3 separate regions of the Homo sapiens genome follow, and all the other regions are linked to region 3. Evidence: fine-mapped expression QTL. A gene starts in region 3. Each other region holds a variant in brackets. All regions are shown on one strand. Distances are from middle to middle. Region 1 overlaps ZFP92 (ZFP92 zinc finger protein). Region 2 overlaps ATP2B3 (ATPase plasma membrane Ca2+ transporting 3). Region 3 holds the start of CCNQ (cyclin Q).

The links. PIP is the estimated chance that this variant, and not a neighbour inherited with it, causes the effect. A credible set is the group of variants that fine-mapping cannot tell apart.
Region 1: its variant is the best candidate, but not a certain one, in a credible set for the expression of CCNQ in fibroblasts (GTEx, PIP 0.51).
Region 2: its variant is the best candidate, but not a certain one, in a credible set for the expression of CCNQ in whole blood (TOPMed, PIP 0.74).

What each region holds. Positions count from the first base shown.
Region 1 is chrX:153,424,497-153,427,252 of GRCh38, forward strand. It overlaps ZFP92 (ZFP92 zinc finger protein), which reads left to right. Exons shown (of 6, transcript NM_001136273.2): 6 at 1-1,985. Among named protein-coding and RNA genes, the nearest start is that of ZFP92, 14 kb to the left of the region's middle. The variant A/G (reference allele first, on the strand shown) is at 1,618.
Region 2 is chrX:153,558,721-153,561,476 of GRCh38, forward strand. ATP2B3 (ATPase plasma membrane Ca2+ transporting 3) reads left to right here. Exons shown (of 22, transcript NM_001001344.3): 18 at 1,009-1,222; 19 at 1,956-2,167. Among named protein-coding and RNA genes, the nearest start is that of CCNQ, 39 kb to the right of the region's middle. RefSeq lists an enhancer at 1,669-2,453. The variant TG/T (reference allele first, on the strand shown) is at 1,644.
Region 3 is chrX:153,597,606-153,600,361 of GRCh38, forward strand. It overlaps CCNQ (cyclin Q), which reads right to left and starts at 1,534. Exons shown (of 5, transcript NM_152274.5): 1 at 1,357-1,534. The coding sequence starts at 1,468. It overlaps LOC105373383 (a long non-coding RNA gene), which reads left to right and starts at 1,735. Exons shown (of 1, transcript NR_131982.1): 1 at 1,735-2,288. RefSeq lists silencers at 1,245-1,604, 1,615-1,664, 1,765-1,904.

The sequences.
Region 1 (2,756 bases), 170 kb before region 3:
TCTTGCTGTGTGGGGAACTGGGAGGGTATAGCCCAAGCTTGCTTTGTGATGGACAGCTAGAATGTAAAAGCTTAAACTATGGGGAAAGTCTTGCCTGTTTTCCAAGGCTTCCTCCACCCTGCCACCGAAGAACTTACCTGGATGCCAACCTGGGACCCCTTTGTCTTTGGGCTTTTGCCCTTTGAAACTGTGAATGCTTCAAGAGCCACATAAATGCTCTGGCAGTGTCTCCATGTAACTAGTAAATTGTCCTGGCTGGATTCGTTGTGAAATGGAACTGTCCCATTTACTTTGGTTGCAAATAAGGAAGATGTATGAGTATTGGCCTGGAAATGAGCCCTCTAGTGTAGAGAGGTTATTCTGAGGGTTTAAACTACATGGATAGGCCTTGGGTTCAAGGTTACAGGAAAGGCTGTAAGCCTGAGATTGTGGGGAATGGCCAGAGCTGGGCTTTGGGTGTTCCTTGTGGGGGTCCCTGTGAAGGTAAGACAGAAAGGCATTCTGGGTGAGCTGCCTCGGGTCAGCCCAGGGGTGCAGGCTCCTCTGACTGGGACCACAGGCAGCCACCCGAGGCCACTCAGATGCCGTGACTCTGAGACCAGAGGGAAGGGAGGCTGGGCCTGGTCCCCTGTGTTCCTCAGCAAAGTGCCACATCAGTCTCCTGAGAACACAGCTGTGTGTTCTTTCCAGTCGCTTCTGTTCCCAGACTTCAGGCAACATGGCAGCTCCCATACTTGCCAGGGTAGTTGGAAGGGCAGCTCTGGAGACAGGAAGTGGAGGTAGAAGCAAAGGAAGGGAGTCCTTGGCTGGGAAGTGCTTGGGTTCGGACAGACAGGGAAGAAGGGAAAGTATGAGGTGTGTTCAGGGAAGCTTAGAAGGGCAGAGAGGTTTCAGTAGGACATGTATGGGCTAAAGGGTCAGTTAGAACCAGAGTATGGAGAGTCTGGGATGCCATATACAAAAGTTTGGGCTCTAACAGTCTCCTGATGAGGAGCAATTTTCCAAAACATGAAAGAATTATTCTAAGAATGACAAAGGGAAGTTAATATAAATTATGACTACCACAGGGTTTGAATTTACACACTGACCACCACAAATTTTATAACTGTAGTCGTCTCGATGGTTGTGATGCCCATGAGGTGTTGGGCTGGGGGCATGATGACGCTGAGGCAACATGAGAGGGGACGTCTTTGACACCAGGGCCCCAGCCACGTGTCTCAGGGGCTCCCACTTGCCATGGGACTCGCAGCTGGTTCCATCCGATGCCAGCCCCAGTGCATCTATCACTGTCTTCACAAAACGGGGGTCCTCCAGGAGTTCTGGACAGCTGCTCTGCAGATTCTTATATACCTTTAATCGAAGGCCTTGGACTTTTGAGAGGAGCGCAGTGCCCTCCTTTTGTGTTCAGGAAGGCCAAATTAGAGCCTTCTCCACCGCCGGGGAATATTCATGTGGGAAATGGAGGCCTGCTGCAGACCTGAAGGTCAATGATTGTTTAATCTTTCTTTGACAGCATTATGAAGGTATAATGGGCATACAAGAAACTGCACGTCTTTAAAGTGTACAGTTGGAGGGTTTTTGGCATGTGTGGACACCCATGAAACCTCCCCCATAATC[A/G]AGACAGTGAATTGATCCGCCACTCCCAAAAGTGGCCTTGCGCCTCCAGCAACCCCTCTTTCCTGCTCCTCACTGTCCCCCATCCCCACCGCCACTGCTTGGCTTGCTGTCACTATAGATTAATTCCCATTTTCTAGAATTCCATAGAAATGGACTCATACAGTGTATGTCTGGCCTCTTTCACTCAGCACAATTCTTTTTTCATCAGGTGTTTTTGTGCATATCAGTACTCCATTTTTTTTTATTGTTGGTAGGATCCCATTGTATGGGTGGACCACAATACCTGTTGAATACCTGTTGATGGACATTTGGGTTGTTACCAGGTTTTGGCCATGACAAATAAAGCTGCTGTGAACATTTGTGTACCAGTTTCTGCGTGGACATATGTTTTCATTTCTCTTGGATATACGGCTAGGAGTGGAATTGTTGGGTCATGTGGTAACTCTGTGTTCAACTGTGCGAGGAACTACCAAGCTTTTCCATAGCAGCTGCACCATCTTATGTTCCCACCAGCAGTGTACAAGCGTTTTAGTTTCTCCATATGCTCACCAACCAATATAGTTTGGATCTGTGATCCCACCCAAATCTCATGTTGAATTGTAATCTCCAATGTTGGAGGTGGGGCCTGGTGGGAGGTTACTGGATCATGGGGGCAGGGTTCTCACGAATGGTTTAGTACCATCCTCTTGGTGTTGTCCTCATGATAGTGATTGAGTTCTCCCAAGAGATGGTCCTTTAAAGGCGTGTGGCACCTCCCCTTTCTCTCTCTTGCTCCTGCTCTGGCAGCGTGATGTGCCTGCTCCTGCTTTGCGTTCCACCATGAGTAAAAACCCCTGAGGCTTCCCCAGAAGCAGATGCTGCCATGCTTCCTGTACAGCCTGAAAAACCGTGAGCCAATTAAACCTCTTTTCTTCATAAATTACCCAATCTCAGGTATTTCTTCATAGTAATGCAAGAACAGACTAATACACTAACACTTGTTATTGTCTGTCTTTTCATTATAGCCATCCCAGTGGGTGTGGGGTGGTATTTCATTGTGGTTTTGATTTGCATTTCCCTGATAACTAATGATGTTGAGCATCTTTTCATGTGTCCTTTGGCCATTCATATGTCTTCTTTGAGGAAGTATCTGTTCAAGT
Region 2 (2,756 bases), 39 kb before region 3:
CAGGCTCACACACACCGTAGCATAGGGCAGGACTTTCTGCCTTTTCATGGCCTCATAACACTCCACGGCACAGACTGCCACATTATGTATGTCTGCCCTGATGGACACATGGCTCGTTCCCACTTTTTGGCTCTTGTGAATGGTGCTGCCAGGAGCATCTGTGTATGAGTTTCTGCGTGGGCTATGCGTCCCATGGGAACCCTTTCTCAACAGTCCCATTTTCCCCATTGGTGAGTGTCCAGATTTTCTTCACCCCGCCTTAGAAAGGGGGTGTTTAAATTGCCTGCTGATCAACTTGGTCTTTTCAAAACAATTTTTTAAATTGAGATAAAAAATCACATAACAAACTTCAACAGAACCATTTTAACCTTTTGAAAGTACATAACTCCGAGGTTTATATCCCTCCACTGTCTATTCCCAGAACATTCTCATCACCCCAAAAGGACACCCAGACCCCGTGAGCAGTCACTCTCTACTCCCCAAACCCCAGCCCCTGGCACCCACTCATCTGCTTTCTCTCTCTATGGATTTGTCAGTTCTGGAAGTTTCCTATGAATGGAATCAGACAGTACGTGGCCTTGTGTGTCTGGCTTCTGTGAGGCTGATTTTTAACGAACAACTCAGAGGAGCTGAGAAGGAAGGTCCAGTTCAGAGTTTCTGCCTCCTCCTGCCCCTGAGGTGCAGGAGACAAGGAGAGCAGCCCTCACTCTGTTGCCCCAAATGGCAGACCCCATCGTCGGGCTGTTTTGTGGTCTGGGGTTTTTCACCTCCTGCGAGGGATTTGGAGCACACCTGCTGCCAGGTGAGAGAAGGGAGGCGGGCACGTGACAGCCCAAAGAAAACGCCCCACTAGCGTAAAGGCGATGTAGGGATGGAGATGTCTGTTTTCATGGGCATGAAATCCTGGTGATGTGGACCCCATGAGGAGCCCCCAGGAGCTACTGGGTTTCCACCCCCAACCTTCCCGGGCAGGCGGCCCATGGAAAGGTGACTGCCTCCTCTCCATAGGACTCTCCTCTCAAAGCCGTGCAGATGTTGTGGGTGAACTTGATCATGGACACATTTGCCTCTCTGGCCCTGGCGACGGAGCCACCCACAGAGTCGCTGCTGCTGCGGAAGCCGTACGGCCGCGACAAGCCCCTCATCTCCCGCACCATGATGAAGAACATTCTGGGCCACGCCGTGTACCAGCTCGCCATCATCTTCACCCTGCTGTTTGTCGGTAGGCTGGCCAGGGGCACCCGGGAGGACTTCAGGACACTGTTGCCACCACCTCGGGCTCAGATTCTGTCTGGTGTGTCTCCACCTGTGTCTCCGCACCCAGTACGGGGTGGGACGCTGCACTTCCTGACTGGACAGCACACAGGGGAAGGAGCAGATGGGCCAGGCTAGCAACCCTGCAGCCAGGCCTGCTGGTGGCCTACAGCTCTTTCGCAAGCCTCTCCTCCCAGGCCGCTGAGCAGCTGAGAAACAGTTCATGTCTTGACATCCTGCCCACGGCTGTGTAGCTGTGTAGAGTAGGCAGCTTCTACCCAGCCCCAGAGTGGCCACGGTAACCCTAGGAACAGAACAGCCCACATTTACCCTGTGAAGATTGCTCCTGTGGAGTGACTGGGGTGCCGTGCTGGAAGCTGTGAGGTGGG[TG/T]GGGGGTGACCGCAAGAGAGAGGAAGAGGAGGAGGGCGTCCGAGGAAAGCCAGCCTTAAGAACTTCCCTTCTTAATCTCTTCCTTCCTGCCCTCAGGCTCAGGGTCTGGCCCCTGGCCCAGAGGGGTCTCAGGACTCTGGTTGGTTGAGCCTGGGGTGGGTGTGGCTGCCTTGGGCCTTGGCCGTGAGCTGGAAGTGGCCATCCCCTGGGACAAGGGACCCATCTCGGGAGCTACACACCGAAGTCTCGCTCCTGAGTAATGCGTCATGCGCTGAGATGACTGTGCCTGAGTGGGGAATGTTGCTTTCCAGGGGAGCTCTTCTTCGACATCGACAGCGGGAGGAATGCGCCCCTGCACTCGCCACCCTCAGAGCACTACACCATCATCTTCAACACGTTCGTCATGATGCAGCTCTTTAACGAGATCAACGCCCGCAAGATCCACGGCGAGAGGAACGTGTTCGACGGCATCTTCAGCAACCCCATCTTCTGCACCATCGTTTTGGGCACTTTCGGGATTCAGGTAGGAGGGGCGGCTCCACTCTTGGCCTCTGCCACTTGCAAAAAGTGGAGGTGGTGGGCTTCAAGACCCCTCGTCCACCCCTAGTACTGGCCTCCCCACCTCCACTCCCAGAAGGAGCCCCACCCCACCTGGCTTTCCTGTAGCCCCCGTCCTCTCTGCATGTCGGAGAGGGCCTTCTTCATCTTCCAAACATTGCCGGCCTTGCCCTGGGTGAGCGCGCTGGCTTCCAGAAGGGTTTCGTGAGCCCTCATCGGAACGAAGTTTTCTCACAGATGCTGGAAGGAGTCCTCCCTGGCTCCCTCTAGGTCTGCCATTCCCATTTCTAGCACTTAATTCCTTGGCATGAGGCTGCCATAACTCCAGAAGTTTCTTTTGGAGATGACCTCTGTGCCCAGTGCTGACACACTAACCTCTGCTTCCCACAGTGCTGTGGACAGGCTGGTCAGCCCCACTGTCTAGGAGGGGCTAAGTGTTCTAAAATATAGTGTATTTGTAGAAAAATTGAGGTATAGTAAGGCCAAAAGGTCAAGAGACAGTTGCCACTGAAAGACAGTTTATGACTCAGAGACCCCAAGAGGAGGACACATGC
Region 3 (2,756 bases):
CTCTAATCACATCTTCAAAATCTCTTTTGCTATATAAGATGACATTCACAGGTTCCAGGGATTAGGATAGGGACATCTTTGGGAAATCAATATTTAGCCTCCTACAAAGGACAAAGGATTGTGTAATACATTTTATAAAGAAGTCCCTCAGAAGGTCTAAACTTGTTATATAAAGACAATTCCTACCTGGGACCCCTCATTCCAGGAGATGCCAGATAAGGTGCTGTTACTGACATGACCTTCCAAGCTTTGTTTTACAGAGCAAACCCCAATTTACACGGACCCTCCGAGCAGACGGTAGCAGATGAGGTGTCACTGCCATCCTTCCCTAATAATAACTTTGCAACTCTTCTTGCAAATTACAGTAAATTTACATATCACTGGGATGAACAGTCCTGCAGCAGTCCTCAGACTCTCCGCCCACCTTGGGTAGAAAGCACATCTGCCCAACCCTTCTCCCCCAAGCAGTAAAGGTAGGAAATAACTACCCGCCAACTAACAGTATCTCCTATCAAGATACTGTTGATGGGCCGGACGAGGTAGCTCACGCCTGTAATCCCAGCACTTTGGGAGGGCGAGGCAACTGGATCACCTGAGGCCAGGAGTTCAAGACCAGCCTGGCCAACATGGTGAAACCCCGTCTCTACTAAAAATACAAACATTAGCCGGGTACGGTGGCACACACCTGTAATTCCAGCTACTCGGAAGCGTGAGGAAGGATAATTGCTTTAGTCCGGGAGACGGAGGTTGCAGTGAGCCGAGATCACGCCACTGCACTCCAGCCTGGCCAACAGAGCGAGACTCCGTCTCGAAAAAAAAAAAAATACTGTTGATGGCTGGATGGAAACGATGTTTCTACAGAGATCTTAGCTTAATCACCTCGCCTGGGAAGCGCGGAGCCCAACACTACTGTGGATGTCCTGGCAGGGTTCGGAACAGGAGCTGCAAGCAGCCTAGGTCCCCGGAGTGACAGGAACCCTCGGACAGCGTTCTCCAAAAGGCTCCGCGCGACTAAGCGCCATAAAGTCTACCGGAGTGCAGGGCCGCGGGTGCCGGCAGAAGGCGTGGCGCACTGCGCAGAGCTGCGGGCGCCCGGGCCGGTCTCCGCCTCGCTGGAGGCCCAACCCGGCCACGTCCTCTCCTAGGGCCTGCACACCGGTCCACGCCATGGGGATACCTCGCGGCTCACTGCTCAGCACACCGGGCGCGGCGCAAAGGCGGAGGTCCTCAGCCCCGAGCAGGGCTTCCCGGCCTCTGCTACGGTGAGCACTCCAGAAGGCCGGCCTGGCCAGCCGGGCCCGCTCCGCGAAGCGGGCCGCGGCGCCGCCTGTCCTGGCCTCCCCCGGCCGCGGTTACCTGCCTCCATGATGAACCTCGCCACTCGGAAGTGCACCCTGGCTTCGGGCGCCGGCTGCCCCTCCGGGCCCCGCGCTGCAGGCCCCCCTCCGCCGCCCTCCGGGGCTTCCATGAGGCGCCGCGGCACCGGCGGAAGGAGAGGCGGCCCCGGCGCGCAGAAGCCGGCAGAACTGGAGGTGCTCGCGGCGGGCGCTGCCGCCCCACCCGGCCGCGTCCGGCCCCGCCCCGCCCCGCCCCTCGCCGCCCCGCCCCGCCCCTCGCCGCCCCGCCCCGCCCCTCGCCGCCCCGCCGCTCCTCCGCCCCGCCCCGCCCCTCAGGGCCCTCGCCCAAGGGTGAGCGCGCGCTTGCGCCACAGACGCTGCCTGGCCGCGCGCGCAGGCGCAGGCGCAGGCGCAGAGGCCGACACCACGGGGCGGCTGGTATGTGTCCACCGGCCCCTAGGCGCCTCGAGCCCCGCCCCTGGGAGACGCAGGCTCCTCCCCGCGGAGCGAGAGCCCGCGGAGCTGCTCCGAGACCCGCGGGAGGGCACCTCCGGTCACCCGAGCCGCAAATCCCCGCCGTCCGAAGGGGGTGTCGCCCCGGGCTGTCGGCCCAGCGTGGCTTAGGCCAGGTACAACCGGCAGCGCCCGCCAAGCCCTGGGCTAGGGACGCCTGCGGGAGTTCACGGGGAGGCGCCGGTGTCTGAGGTCTGAGAAGACAGCGGCCACCGGAAAAGGTGCTAATGTTTGCAGACCCCGATCCATCGACACCCCAAGGAAATGCTGTGCACAAAATTCCAAGAGGGCCTTTTCGAATAGACGCATGAACGGTGTTTGTGTCTGGATCGTCCAGCCTCCCGGGATCGATTGGGAATCTAGCTTCTGCTTGCCTTTCCAGCGCGACGCACAGTAGGAGCCTAATAAATGTTTGCTGAATGAATGCTGAATATCGAACTCAGGTATTTACCATCTCATTTTTCATTCGCGTCTTCCACAAGCAGGAAATGGTGCATCAGGCTTTAGGGACATAGAACCCCAAAGGTACTCACTCCCAAGTTAGTGACAGTCACTGGAGTCATTCTGATACATTCAGATCATTGCTACAATTTCAGACAGCTGGCAATATGGAGAGGAAAAAGCTACTGCTCCCTAAACCCTTCTGCCCAGGCGCCTTGATCTCCTGATGGTGTGGAAGTCTCCACCTCTTACCCCCACCCCACACACCCAGTCCGGCCTCATTCTCCTTCCTCAGCACTTCCTGCCTCCACCAGCCTCCCCAAGTCCTCTCTCCATCCCAGCTGGGTTAGTTTCCTGGGGCTGCTGTAACAAATGACCACAAATTGGGTTGCTAAAAACAGCAGAAGTATATCCTCTCTCAATTCTGGAGGCCAGACACCTGAAATGGAGGTGACACTAGGGCTT